Linked DNA regions of Homo sapiens. The protein of the gene in region 1 purifies or fractionates together with the protein of each later gene. This does not show direct contact. Each region holds a gene or a part of one and is shown in the gene's direction. Other genes may lie near its edges.

Region 1 (7,000 bases):
GCCAGGCTTTGAATCCCCAGTCTGCTGCTTCATAGTTGGTTAGCTTTAGGCAAGTTATTTAGTACCTCTGGTTTCAGTGTCATTGTTTGTAAACTGGAAGTAACAACTAGCTACCCCATAGGGTTATCCTGAGAATTAAATTGAGCTGATGCTGATGAAGCCGGTAGCACAGTGTAAGTACTCAATAAATGGTAGCTGGTATGGCATTATCATTTTTCCTCTTTAATTCCTCTTTGTGCTTTTAAAAATCTTTTAGGCTGCTGTTTCAGAGAAACAACAAACTCACAGTGCTTTTTCCCATTCTCTCACTTCACAACAACAATCAACATAGAAGACTTCTGTAACCAAATGTGTGGGCGTTTTTCACCACATATCAAGCAGCAGCCACCAGCTGGGTGTCCTCTAATTTAGTTTCATTTTCTGATGCTGTCTTCCTGGAGATAGCCTCAGATCCCACAAGATGTCCCTCCTCCCCGCAACCAGTCGATAAGTCAGGGCCTCTGGAACTTCTGACCAACCAGCTTCAAGTTGGGGTTCTCATGACCCCCCGCTTTGGGTTCAATTAATTTGCTACAGCAGCTCTCAGAACTAAAAGAAACACATTTACCAGTTTATTATAGAGGATATTACAAAGAATATAGATGGGGAGATGTATAGGCTGAGGTACAGGGGAAGGAGCATGGAGTTGCCATGCCCCTCCTGGGTACACCACCCTCCAGGAATGTCCACATATTCAGCTTATTCAAAAGTTCTCCAAACTCTGTCCTTTAGGAATATTTATGGAGACTTCATTGGGTAAGATGATTAATTAAGCCATTGGCCTTTAGGAAGTAGTGCTGCAAGTCCCAACCTTCTAATCCTGCCTTGGCCTTTCTGGTGACCAGCCCCCATCCTGAAACTACCTGGGGGGCTATCAGCCATCAGTCAATAGTTTGTCATTAGTATACAAAAAGACATTACTTTTGAGATTCCTTTGCCAGGAAACAGGATGAAGAGCAAATACATATTTCACTGTATCACAGGTGCTAATTTTGGTTTAGCAAATCTCTATAGTCTTCCCTTTTTTGGGGAAGGAGCTGGGTCAACCTTTGTGGAGTCAAGATGAATCAAATACAGTCCCAGCCCCTAAGAAGTATTGGATCCAGCAGAGGAGGTGAGATGACCACAGCCATAATTTAAGGCAGAAGGTATTAGAAAATTACAAAATACAATGGAAGAGAGAGGTAACTTCTAGTTTGGGAGGTTGGAAAGTACTTTCTAAAAACATGCCTGGCATTTAAGGGTGAAGAGGATTTGGACATATAGAGGCATTAAAGGAAGGAGCAAAGAAATGGGCAGTGTTCAGGGGCACTTGGCTCACAGTGAGAAGAGGGTATGTGTTGGGAAAGGAATAGTTGCTGAGGCTGGAGGGGTAAGTTGAGGGCAAGTCACTAAAGGCGCTGAGTGTCAGGTTGAAGAGTTGGGCCTTTATCCTGTAAGTAAAGAAAGGCAAATCTCATTTCTAGAACTCTTATGAACAGTTCATAGTGGCTACTTAAAGTACTGTATTGAAAAGGATACCTAGATGTTATCTGGGCCCAGTGGAGAAGACTGTTGTGCTTGATTAATGGTGTGTGCCAGGGGCTCAGTGGGTGTGTTAGCAACCATGCCACATTATCTATGGATAAAATATATATAGGAGTAGAGACCGTATAACCCAGGGATTAACATGGTCTGTGGAGCTGGGCTGCTTAAATCCTGGATAAGAAGTGACTGCTGTGGTCTGGCTGCATGGTCCTGAGGACCTGAACCAGGGTCAGGGGCATGGGAGGGAAGAGCCTACACAGTGAATGGGCTAAACCTGGGAACATTTTGAATGTGGGACTAAGAGAGGAGGGCTAGATTGCTCTACAATGCTGCAGAAGTTTCTACCTGCCTGGCTGGGAGGTAGGAGGGTCTGGTTTGGGGATGTGGCCCTGAGGAGAGGACCAGTGTTTGGCAGTGGCCATGTATTGATCTCCCAGTTCTTCCTGTGGCAGGTCCCACGTACCTCGGAGATTTATGTCCACCGAAGTGGTCGAACTGCTCGAGCTACCAATGAAGGCCTCAGTCTGATGCTCATTGGGCCTGAGGATGTGATCAACTTTAAGAAGATTTACAAAACGCTCAAGAAAGATGAGGATATCCCACTGTTCCCCGTGCAGACAAAATACATGGATGTGGTCAAGGTAGAAAGCAGTTAAAACCCCAGTGCTAATGAAGGGATTGTGCTGCTCCCTTGCAGAGCACCTTGCTGTGGGACTCTGGCAGCATAACCCTTGAAAACTAAGGAATGGTTCTGCCAACAGCTGAACAAGGAGACTTGTAGAAAGGATTGAGAGCAACATACCTGGGAAAAGGGAGAAAAGGGGAGTGACTGAAGGTGGGAGGCATTTTCTCCCTGAACCATTTCTTCCTTCTCTGGCCCTGAAGTCCCCCCTCCTCACCAGACAGTGCAGTGGTCATGGCTGTCTGGATATCCTGTCAGAGGGTTGTAGACAGTGTGGTTAGTGTTTCCTGCTGAGGCAGATGCTACAGGTTTGGCACATCCCTGGAGCAGGTGCCAGTAAATTCTGTCTTTTGGGTTTTAACTCAGCAGGCATTCCCCAGGTAGGTGCCGCTTACCATGGGACACTGTATTAGTGACCAAAGTGGGGTGGGTTCTCCTTCCCAGAGGTTTGCCAGCTGTGAATAAAGTTCAGGTACAGTGGAGCAGTATGGAATTACTGGGCATATGGTTACATTGGGAGGAGAAGAGGTTCTATCCCAGCTTCCTGCTGGCAAAGATGTGGAAGGGTACAGAGGAGGTGGAATTCCAGGAATTGAGGGAGCAAAACCATGGCACAGTTCAAGGAATGTTGGCTTCTCTGGCTCAAAAGGAATATTAGCTGTGTGGGGAAATAGGGTGGAGATAAGGATGGAAAAGTGGAAATCATAGAGAATTCCCATTAGTAAGGAGGATTAGGAGCCACCCAGGCTTCCCTTGGTTTCTTTCCCCACATCACAAGATCCTTCTCATTTTGCCACTGCACTGTAACCCCAAAACCCTCTAGAGGGAGAGTTGAAATGTTTTATCTTAGCTCAGCTGTGGAAGCAAGCTGTGGCATCTGCGTAAAGACTTCACTTTGGTTACCTATAGGTTGGCAGTCAAACCAGTAAGGGTTTTCAAAGGATGTGGCTGTTCAGGTTGATTGTTGGGAAAGCTGGCAGTTGTGTTTAGATGTGTACACACAGACGGGTAATGGTTGCCCACTGGACTTTTATCAGGAAGCAATAAATGCATTTCAACAGGAACTGAACTGCATCTCACCACTGATCTCAAGAGCTTTTTATTTATTTATTTTTAATTTTTAATTTTTAATTTTTTTTTGAGACGGAGCTTTGCTCATGTTGCCCAGACTGGAGTGCAGTGGCACAATCTTGGCTCACCACAACCTTCGCCTCCCGGGTTCAAGTGATTCTCCTGCCTCAGCCTCCCAAGTAGCTGGGATTACAGGCATGCGCCACCATGCCCAGCTAATTTTGTATTTTTAGTAGAGACGGGGTTTCTCCATGTTGGTCAGGCTGGTCTTGAACTCCTGACCTCAGGTGATCCGCCCGCCTTGGCCTCCCAGAGTGCTAGGATTACAGGTGTGAGCCACCATGCCCGGCTCAAGAGCTTTTTAAAAACACTACTTGCTGGGCACGGTGGCTCACGCCTGTAATCCCAACACTTTAGGAGGCTGAAGTGGAAAGATTGCTTGAGCACAGGAGTTCAAGACCAGCCTAGACAACACAGTTGAGACCCTGTCTTTACGAAAAAAAAAAAAAAAAAAAAAAAAAAAAAGAAATTACCTAGGCATGGTGGTGCCTCCCAGCTGCTTGGGAGGCTGAGGTGGGAGGATTGCTTGATCCAAGGAGGTTGAGGCTGCAGTGAGCCATGATCATGCCACTGCTCTCCAGCCTGGGCAGCAGAGTGATACCTGCCTTAAACACACAAACACAACTCAAGTGAGACTTTGCTTCCCAGAGGCCTGAACTCTATTTCAGATGAATATTTTCTGTTACTTCCCCCCAGGAGCGAATCCGTTTAGCTCGACAGATTGAGAAATCTGAGTATCGGAACTTCCAGGCTTGCCTGCACAACTCTTGGATTGAGCAGGCAGCAGCTGCCCTGGAGATTGAGCTGGAAGAAGACATGTATAAGGGTAAGCCCTTGGGCGGGATGGGAATTGAGGAAGTTGAAATCTCTCTTTAACTTTTGCTTTGTTGGAACCATCTCTACTACTGTGGGTCTTGTCAAAATCAGCAAGGCGTCCTTCCCCCTCTTTGCTAACAGGCCCTGGTCCCAGGTGAGCCTACTGCCCTCGGTCAGTCTTTGTTTCCTCTGTCTCTGTCTTGTGCCCTCAGCTGCCTCCTCTTACATGGACAGGCAGTGGAGTACAGTGAGGAAGGGAGCAGGCTCTCTGGCCAGGCTGCCTGTGTTAGAATGCCGGCTCATTGCCTTAACTATGTGACTGAGTCAAGTTATTTAACCTCTGTTGTGTTCTCAGCTTTCTCCTCCATAAAATGGAAGTAGTCAACTACCTACTTCATGGGATTGTTGTGAAGACTGATTGAGTTAAAAAATGTTAAGTGCTTATAGCATTGCCTGGCAAATAGAAAGTATTACATTTTAAGTTATTTGTCATTATGGTTCCTACTACACCTGCCTTCCAAGCTGACAAAGCACTTCCATGCCATTATCTCATTTGATCTTCTCCACTTTCATGACATGAACACAGCAGGAAGTACTCTTCTTTTACATATGGAAACTAGATACCACAGCAGAGGCAGTTTGTGCAGGGAAACAGCTCTGTCACAAGGCATTTCCAGAGCTGCTACTCTATATGTGACCACAGGCTGAGGCTTCAGGGATGAATCTGCCCGGTCCCTGCTTGAGAAAACTCCTGGTCTAAAAAGTGGTAGAACCAAATCTAGAACTCCATGCTCCTTCCACACCACCAAGTATGCAGCTCAGCAGAGATGTTGACACCTCGGTGCCCAAGTCAGCAAATTCAGAGGCAGACTTAACTGCTGTCTGCTCAGCATGGAAGCCAGGAGCCAAACCAGTGGGCTTGATGACAGTGAGCTATTTCTGGTGGCTCAGGGTTGGGGCTTGGGCCGAAGATGTGGAGGCCCTGGCTTCCCTTCCTGAGGACAGACTGAGGTGGAACCTTTTGGCTCTGCCAGCTTCTCCATGTGCAGTCACAGCACTGGTGGCAAGGCATAGGAGAGCTGGGCTACAAAGAAGCATTCAGTGTCTCCTGGGGCGGCAGGGAGGTGGGGGTTGTAATTGTGAACTCACCAAACCCCAGGTGGGCAGTAAGTGGGTGGGTCATAGGAAGAAAAGTGATCTTCAGTCAGGAGACTTGGGTTCTGGGCTCTGTCTGATGACTGGCTCTGTGATGTGAGCCAGGTGACTTCTCTAACCCTGAGTTGCCTCATCTGTAAAGATAATTCCAGTCTTGGAGGATTTTTATGGAGTAAAAAAGGACAGAGCGGTCCTGTGTATCCCCTGCAAATGGTTAGACGTTATCCATTTACAGCCCCTGCCAAGCCACCACTAGCTTCTTCAGAGAACTTTTGAACCCTGCCTCCCTAAAGTAGTTCTAAAACATTTTTCACTGTGTTACCCATCAAGGGAAACAAAATGTTTCTACAAACCATAGTAAATAGGATCGTTTTTGTATTGTGTTTCAAGGAGGAAAAGCTGACCAGCAAGAAGAACGTCGGAGACAAAAGCAGATGAAGGTTCTGAAGAAGGAGCTGCGCCACCTGCTGTCCCAGCCACTGTTTACGGAGAGCCAGAAAACCAAGTATCCCACTCAGTCTGGCAAGCCGCCCCTGCTTGTGTCTGCCCCAAGTAAGAGCGAGTCTGCTTTGAGCTGTCTCTCCAAGCAGAAGAAGAAGAAGACAAAGAAGCCGAAGGAGCCACAGCCGGAACAGCCACAGCCAAGTACAAGTGCAAATTAACTGGTCAAGTGTGTCAGTGACTGCACATTGGTTTCTGTTCTCTGGCTATTTGCAAAACCTCTCCCACCCTTGTGTTTCACTCCACCACCAACCCCAGGTAAAAAAGTCTCCCTCTCTTCCACTCACACCCATAGCGGGAGAGACCTCATGCAGATTTGCATTGTTTTGGAGTAAGAATTCAATGCAGCAGCTTAATTTTTCTGTATTGCAGTGTTTATAGGCTTCTTGTGTGTTAAACTTGATTTCATAAATTAAAAACAATGGTCAGAGCCATTGTGTCATCCTGATTTTTTTTTTTTTTTTTTAGATAGAAGATGGGGGTGGTGGTGTAGTTTGTTTCATTATTAACTTAGTGATTCTCCTGGGCCAGCACAGTGCTAAGCCCTTGAAAGGACAGGAATAGTGTCAGGCCTCTGGCTGCAGGCCAAGATTGGACAGTGTGAATGGAGCAAGAGGCTGGAATGTTCAAGAGGTGCATGTTCCTGCTTTACCCAGAGCAGCACCCTAATAGCTCCTTAGCTCTCTCCACTCTCCTGGGTATTGTCTGAGCCACCGTGGGAGGTGGGCAGGGATGAGGTTGCTGTCTTCAGGCTTCCCTCACATCACAGAGCCAACAGTAACAGTCGCTAGGTCTGGCGTGTGAAGCCCTCAGGATCTAGCCCCAGCCTTGTCTCCACTCCCTCCTGTTTGACAGAGCAGGCTCCTGCCCACGGTTCCATGCACCCCTTCTCTTGTCCTGAGCCTTTGTGCAGAATAGGCTTTTCCCTCGGTCTGGATTGCCTTTTGGCCTTCTCCATCCTGGAGCACTGCCATGGGTCCTCTAGTCCTGAGCCTCTAAGGGGAAGCAGTGCTTCTCCTGGGGCTCCCTTAGTGTCCCGTGCTTACCCTCTTCATAGCACTTGCCATGCTGTGTTCCCTTAGCTGAGCTCCTTGGGAGAAGAGGAACTCAAGGCTTGGTCAGCCTGGTATAAATATGTGCTCAGGGAAC
Region 2 (7,609 bases), on another chromosome or scaffold:
GGGTCAACAGATGGATCGCATATACAATGGTGGTCCCATAAGATTATTATACCTTATTTTTAATATACCTTTCCTGTTTTTTTTTTTCTTTGGAGGCAGTCTCGCTCTGTCACCCAGGCTGGAGTGCAGTGGTGTAATCTCGGCTCACTGCAACCTCTGATTTCCGAGTTCAAGTAATTCCCTGCCTCACCCTCCCGAGTAGCTGGGATTACAGGCATGTGCCACCACACCTGGCTAATTTTTGTGTTTTTAGTAGAGACGAGGTTGTTACCATGTTGTCCAGGCTGGTCTCAAACTCCTGACCTCATGATCTGCCCGCCTCAGCCTCCCTAAGTGTTGGGATTACAGGCATGAGCCACCAAGCCCGGCCCTTTCCTATGCTTAGATGCACAAATACTGTGTTTCGGTTGCTTACAGTATTCAGTACAGTAACACTGTACAGGTTTGTAGCCTAGGTGTGTGTAGTAGGCTATACCATCTAGGTTTGTATAAGCACATTCTTATGATTGTACAAAGATGAAATTGTCTAACAACACATTTCTCAGAACCTAGCCCTGTGGTTAAGTGACGCATGGCTGCATATAACATTTAGTGGGGGGGTGTAAAATAGGTGGAACTCAAAAGTTGAAGTAGTATTTTTTTTTTGTTCACAGGTCAGTTTAGGGGCTGGTGCAAAGGATGAGTTGCACATTGTTGAAGCAGAGGCAATGAATTACGAAGGCAGTCCAATTAAAGTAACACTGGCAACTTTGAAAATGTCTGTACAGCCAACGGTAAGGGCACTTACATACTTTGGATGTTGTGTCAAGGTTTAATTCTGTTTTAAGGTAGGTTTGGTGTCATTTAGTTGTGCCAAGGAGATAGAAAGTGGTTCTTTATCTTCTGTCACTGGAGTTCGATGGTCAACTCTTGAACATGGGGGCTTCTGCTGCTACTTTTATCAGAGGTGGAAAAACAGGTTCACTGGTTTGTTGATTTGGCTTATGTGTTTGCCTGTAATGTTTATTGTTCATTTTCTTCACATGTTTAGTGATGAAAAATTTCTCCCTTCTAGGTTTCCCTTGGGGGCTTTGAAATAACACCACCAGTGGTCTTAAGGTTGAAGTGTGGTTCAGGGCCAGTGCATATTAGTGGACAGCACTTAGTAGGTATGTTATTTTTATATATTATACTACTTAGTTTGTCCTCTTTAGTGCAGTTGCTTGGTTCCCAGTTTGGACTTAAAGCATGGGTATAGTACTACTGTCTTTTTAATAGGTTCCAATGTGAGTCTAGAAATTGGAGAGGACAAATAAATTTTTGGGGCGGGGGGGAGAGGAAATCTTGCTGTCACCCAGGCTAGAGTACAGTGGCACGATCTTGGCTCACTGGAACCTCTCCGGGATTCAAGCGATCCTCCTGTCTCAGCCTCCCCAGTAGCTGGGGCCACAGACGTGCACCACCAAGTCCAGTTGCGTTTCATAGTTATAGTAGAGAAGGGGTTTCGTGATGTTGGCCAGGCCGATCTTGAACTCCTGGCCTTAACGTGATCTGCACGCCCTGGCCTCTCAAAGTGCTAGTATTACACGTGTCAGCCACTGTGCCTGGCCTAAAAATTATTTTTTAATAAAGACAGTCTCATTATAACGGCTGGAGTGCAGTGATGTGATCATAGCTTGCTATATCCTCGAACTGCTACTGGGTTCACCTCAGCCTCTGGAATAGCTAGAACTACAGGCACACTCCACGCCTGGCTAATTTTTTTTGTATATGTGCAGATGGGGTCTCAGTATGTTGCCCAGATTGGACTCTTGGCCTCAAGTGGTCCGCCTTGGCCTCCCCAAAGTGAGATTACAGGCATGAGCCACCCTCCCCAGGCTTCTTGCATTTAAAACCTGGCAGTGAACATTAGGCCTCAAAATACTTTTGTTAAAAAGTTCCTTTTCCCATGTGCTCTTTTTTTTTTTTTTTTTAAATAGAATAGAAGTCTCAGTTTTTAGAGTATTTACTATCAGTGTTCTTTTTTTTTCTGACTTCTTGCTGCTTGAGTTTTATAATGTCTAATAAATTGTATTTTAGCTGTGGAGGAAGATGCAGAGTCAGAAGATGAAGAGGAGGAGGATGTGAAACTCTTAAGTATATCTGGAAAGCGGTCTGCCCCTGGAGGTGGTAGCAAGGTTCCACAGGTAGAGATGGCAATTTTATTATAGGTTTTGTATTATAGCTTTTAGTTTGGTGATAGAACAGCTCTTGTTCATGAGTACGTATCTTTTCTTTTAAAAGAAAAAAGTAAAACTTGCTGCTGATGAAGATGATGACGATGATGATGAAGAGGATGATGATGAAGAGTAAGTATGATTTTAGAAACTTGATATACTTCCGGAATCTTGACAAAAAAAGGAATTTGACATAGTTATATGCATGAGGGTTTTATAAAAGTCATTTACAAAAAGCCATCCTATGTAATAGTTTATAATAAAAGGGCAGGTGGTCATCTGTTGTCAGTTTAAGTTAAATGAGCTGAGTTGAAAGGATATTGGGTCTGTGAGCCTTTACAATGCTGTGACTTGTGACTCTTCAGAAGGGTAGACTATAGTGTTTGTGAAGTTTGATTATGTCCCTTTGTTCTGAAGATTTAGTGGATGTGTTATACCCATCAAGCCTGGTATGTTTTATGGTGAGCAGTTAATGAGATTGGGTTGAAAGAAAATATGATTAAATAGCTCTATATTCATTTTACAAGTTGTTACTCAAGGTTTGTTATTCCCTAAAAGGATTTTGTCTTATGGTTTTATGTAGATATTTATTGACAAAAATAAGATTCTAAAAGGGATATTAAGATTTTCTTGGGATTTAAAATATGGTTGGAAACAATATTTGATGACTTTATATTAAACTAGATCAAACTATTGTTACAAACAGTTAATACGCACACTGGTATAAAGTACTGTTTATAATTGGTCTTATGTGTGCCAGTACCAGTAATGCATTGAATACTTTGATTTGGCTCTCAGCTTTGTCCTTCAGTTCTGAGGTTGGTCCATATGCATTTATTGAAAACAAATATAAGAACATGCACTTTAAAAGAGAACCTGCATGAAAGATCAAATTGGGAGTTTAGGTTTTAAGCTGGTGGTTCTTCAAAATCTTTGAGCATGACGATGAAGGCAGAAAACAGGAAAAAGGCCGAAAGAGCCGAAAGCTTAAAAATTCAAAGTATGACCAGGCGCAGTGGTTCACACCCGTAATCCTAACACCCAGCCAAGATGAGAGGATCTCTTGAGGCCAGCCCGGTCAAAATAGCAAGACCCAATCTCAAAAGAAAAATAAAAATTCAAAGTACTTGCATGTCAAACTTATAAATGAACGCAAACTTAAAGGTAGTATTTGACTGTTGCTGTTTTTGTTTTCTTTTTTTTTTTTTTTTTTTTTGAGATGGAGTCTCCAGTTGCTCAGGCTGGAGTGCGGTGGCGCCATCTCGGCTCACCACAACCTCTGCCTCCTGGGTTCAAGCGATTGTCCTGCCTCAGCCTCCCGGGTAGCTGGGACTGCAGGCTCGGGGCACCATGCCCTGCTAATTTTTGTATTTAGTAGAGACAGGGTTTCAGTATGTTGGTCCGGCTGGTCTTGAACTCCTAACCTCGTGATCTACCTGCCTCGGTCTCCCAAAGTGCTGGGATTGCAGATGTGAACCACTGCGCCCAGCCAAATTTTTGTATTTTTAATAGACATGGGGTTTCACCACGTTGGCTAGGCTATTCTCAAACTCCTAACCTCGGGCGATCTGGTCACCTCATCCTCCCAAAGTGCTGGGATTACAGGCATGAGCCACCGTGCCCGGCCACTTTTTTTCTTGAGATGGTGTTTTACCATGCTACTCAGACTGGACTTGAATCTCTGGGCACAAGCTATCCTCCCCTCTCAGACTATGAAGCAGGTGGGGTTACAGGAGCATAACCAAGCCCAGCTTGTTTGGTTATCACTTTTAAGAATATTTCTCGTTAGTAAGAATTGAAATACATTCCAAGAGAAGAATGGGAAACAGGCTAAAAACACAAATTAGAAATAGGGATGGTATGGTTCGGATTGGTTTAGTCTGATTTTGAGTTACCTTTGTACAAGTTTATAAAATAAGTGTTTAATAGCATTCACCGAGGCTCGGGGACAAGCAATCCCTTCCAGAAAGGCTTTGGAGTAGGACCTGATTGTAGTATTGACCCTGTTGGGGCTTTGGAAGATTTCCTTTTTTAAAAATTGATATAATTAGGCCAGGCATGGTGGCTCACGCCTGTAATCCCAGCACTTTGGGAGGCTGAGGTGGGTGGATCACTTGAGGTCAGGAGTTCAAGACCAGCCTGGCCAACATGGTGAAACCCGGTATCTACTAAAAATACAAAAATTAGCTGGGTATCGTGGTGCCTGCCTATTGGTCCCAGTTACTTAGGAGGTTGAGTCAGGAGAATTGCTTGAACCTGGGAGGTGGAGGTTGCAGCAAGCCAAGAATGCGCCACCGTGTTCCATCCTGGGCAACAGAGGGAGACTCCCATCTCAGAAAAATGGGTATAAATTCATGATGTAACCACAATGTAATTTTGTTTGTCTTTAAGTTGGGCATTGATAGGAATGAAAAGTGTAGATATCAAGGTCCAAATCAGTACCTGGTTTTTTTTGTGGGATTTTTTTTTTTTCGGCAAGTCTCGCTCTTGTGCCCCAGGCTGGTGTGCAATGGTATGATCTCTGCTCGCTGCAACCTCTGCCTTCCAGGTTCAAGTGATTCTCCTGCCTCGGCCTCCAGAGTAGCTTGGATTACAGGCACTTGCCACCACGCCTGGCTAAGTTTTGTATTTTTAGTAGAGACGGGGTTTCACCATGTTGGCCAAGCTGGTCTCGAACTCCAAAGTGCTGGGATTACAGGCGTGAGCCACCATGCACCGCCGCAAGTTTTCATATAAGTTGAAGAAAGTGTACTAAGGTCTGCATAGTAGTAAAGGATGCCTTGAGGGAAACAAATATTAATAGAAACTTCAGTGGTGAGATGGCAAGGGCCCAGCATAGATAGATGGCAATGAAAATGCAAAGAGGTGCATGAAGGTTCGTTATAGTTACTTAGAAATCTAACCTTTTGAACACAGATCAAAGGGGAATTTGGTTCCTTTTTGAGGATGGAATGGGTATATGGTGTGGGCTCAGATGACTCTTGATTTAAGCAAGAAAGGCTATGTAATGTGCATAGTGCTGATGTATACTATACATAGATGTATGTAATACGTTGATAGTATGTGGCCCTTAAATGTCTTTTTTAATTTTTGGGGAATTTCTTAAGTAAAGCTGAATTTTTTTTTTTTTTTTTGGAGACAGTCTCTGTTGCCCCGGCTGAAGTGCATTGTTGGCTAGGCTGGAGTGCAGTGGTGCAATCATGGCTCACTGTAACTTCTGCCTCCCGGGTTCAAGTGATTCTCCTGCCTCAGCCTCCCAAGTAGCTGGGATTACAGGCATGTGCCAGCATGCCAGGCTAATTTTTTGTATTTTTAATAGAGATGGGGTTTCGCCATGTTGGTCAGGCTAGTCTTGAACTCCTGACCTCAGGTGATCTGCCCACCCCAGCCTCCCAGAGTGCTGAGATTACAGGTGTGAGCCACCACACCCTGCCAGTAAAGCTGTTTTGATAGTAGTTTTGATAGCTATTTTGATAGTAGTTTAATAGACTTGTTTTAACAAATAAGAAAAAATGTTTAAAAAAAGCATTCTCATCTTGTTTCTAGCACAGGGGAGGCACCTGCAGGGATTGGGTTCTAATGCCAGAAACTTGTACTGACAAAATCACTGTTAAAAAGCCACTTGAAGGGCTATTTGTGACAGCTTTTTAAGTTATGATACTTTTTCTAAATACAGCAAATATTTCTTCGGTATTGGAAAGATAGGTGTTTCTTACATGAAGTTGCTGTATTGGGATTTAGAGACCAGTACGTTCAGTTGTTGAATTAAACGTGAACCCCTTGGTATTTGCTAATAGAGACTTCTGCCTGACTTGCCCTCCAGTGACTCGATTTGATTACTCCCCTCCATTGTTTACCTATTAACAGTTCACACCTGTAATCCCAGCACTTTGGGTGGTCGATGCGGGCAGATCACCTGAGGTCAGGAGTTGAAGACCAGCCTGGCCAATATGGTGAAACCCCGTCTCTGCTAACATACAGCTGGGTGTGATGGTGGGCGCTTGCAATCCCAGCTGCTGGGGAGGCTGAGGCAGGAGAATTGCTTGAACCCGGGAGGCGGAGGTTGCAGTGAGCCGAGATCGCACCATTGCATTCCAGATTGGGCAACAAGAGTAAAACTCAAAAAAAAATAGTGTGCAGTTCAGTGGTTTTAGTATGCATAGTTGTGTAGCCATCACCATAATCAATTTTAGAACATTTCATCACCTCAATGAGAAATCGTACTCTATAGGTATTACCCCTCATGCTCTTCAGCTCTAGTCAACCACGAATGAACTTTGTCTATAGGTTTCCTGTCCCTCATATTTTGCACGAATGGACTTCTGTGACTGTTTTCTTAGCACAGTGTTTTCAAGTTTCATCCATGTTATAGCATTATCAGTACTCCATTTATTTATATGGTTGAATACATTGTATGGGTATGTTTGGTTATTCATCAGTTGGTGAGCATTTGAGTTGCTTCTACTTGTTGACTGCTATGAACGCTTGTAGACATGTCATTTTACTTGGATGTACACCTAAAGCAGAGTGGCTCACCCATTGTATTCCCACTAGCAGTGTATGGGGCTTCTGATTTCACTCCAACCTACTGATTTCACTACACCCTCACTTGCCATTATCTGACTCTAATCCTGGTGGTATGAAGTGCTGATTGTGGGTTTGATTGCGTCTCCCTGTGGACTAATAATGAGCATCTTTTCATGTATTCATTGGCCATATATCTTTGGAGAAATGTTTTTGCCCACTTAAATCCATTTACTTCTCTTTGTCTTTACTAAGTTGTAAGAATTCTTTTTTCTTTTTTCTTTTTGATATGATTTTTGTATTTTTAGTAGAGAAGGGGTTTTGCCATGTTGGCCAGGCTGTTCTTAAACTCCTGTCTTCAGTGATCCACCTCCCTCTGCCTCCCAAACTGCTGAGATTACAGCTGTGAGCCACTGTGCCTGGCAAGAATTCTTTTTTTTTTTTTTTTGACAAGTCTCTGTTGCCCAGGCTTGAGTGCAGTGATGTGATCTTGGCTCACTGCAACCTCCTCCTCCCTTGTTCAAGCAATTCTTCTGCCTCTCCCAAGTAGTTGGGATTACAGGCACCCCCCCCACCACGCCCGGCTAATTTTCTGTATTTTAAATAGAGACCGGGTTTCGCCATGTTGGCCAGGCTGGTCTTGAACTCCTGAGGTCAGGCCCGCCTCGGCCTCCCACAAGTGCTGGGATTACAGGCGTGAGCCACTGCACTGGGCCCAAGAATTCTTTATGTATTCTGCAAACAAGTCCCTTATCAGACACAAGATTTACAGATTATCTTCCACCATTCCGTGAATTGTTACTTAACTTTCATGATGGTGGCCTTTGAACAAGTTTTTAATTTTTATGACGTCCGATTTCTTTTGTTGCTTGTGCCTTTGGTGTCAATCC

The links.
Region 2: the proteins of DDX24 (region 1) and NPM1 purify together in Homo sapiens (affinity purification with mass spectrometry; 5 studies listed by BioGRID and IntAct, with this or other methods). This does not show direct contact.

The regions. Positions count from the first base shown.
Region 1 is NC_000014.9:94,050,203-94,057,202, reverse strand, and holds part of DDX24 (ATP-dependent RNA helicase DDX24), read left to right. Parts: intron 1-2,018; coding exon 2,019-2,207; intron 2,208-4,075; coding exon 4,076-4,205; intron 4,206-5,740; coding exon 5,741-6,012; 3' UTR 6,013-7,000. UniProt on the Homo sapiens protein: ATP-dependent RNA helicase that plays a role in various aspects of RNA metabolism including pre-mRNA splicing and is thereby involved in different biological processes such as cell cycle regulation or innate immunity.
Region 2 is NC_000005.10:171,390,652-171,398,260, forward strand, and holds part of NPM1 (nucleophosmin), read left to right. Parts: intron 1-653; coding exon 654-773; intron 774-1,054; coding exon 1,055-1,148; intron 1,149-2,058; coding exon 2,059-2,165; intron 2,166-2,262; coding exon 2,263-2,327; intron 2,328-7,609. UniProt on the Homo sapiens protein: Involved in diverse cellular processes such as ribosome biogenesis, centrosome duplication, protein chaperoning, histone assembly, cell proliferation, and regulation of tumor suppressors p53/TP53 and ARF.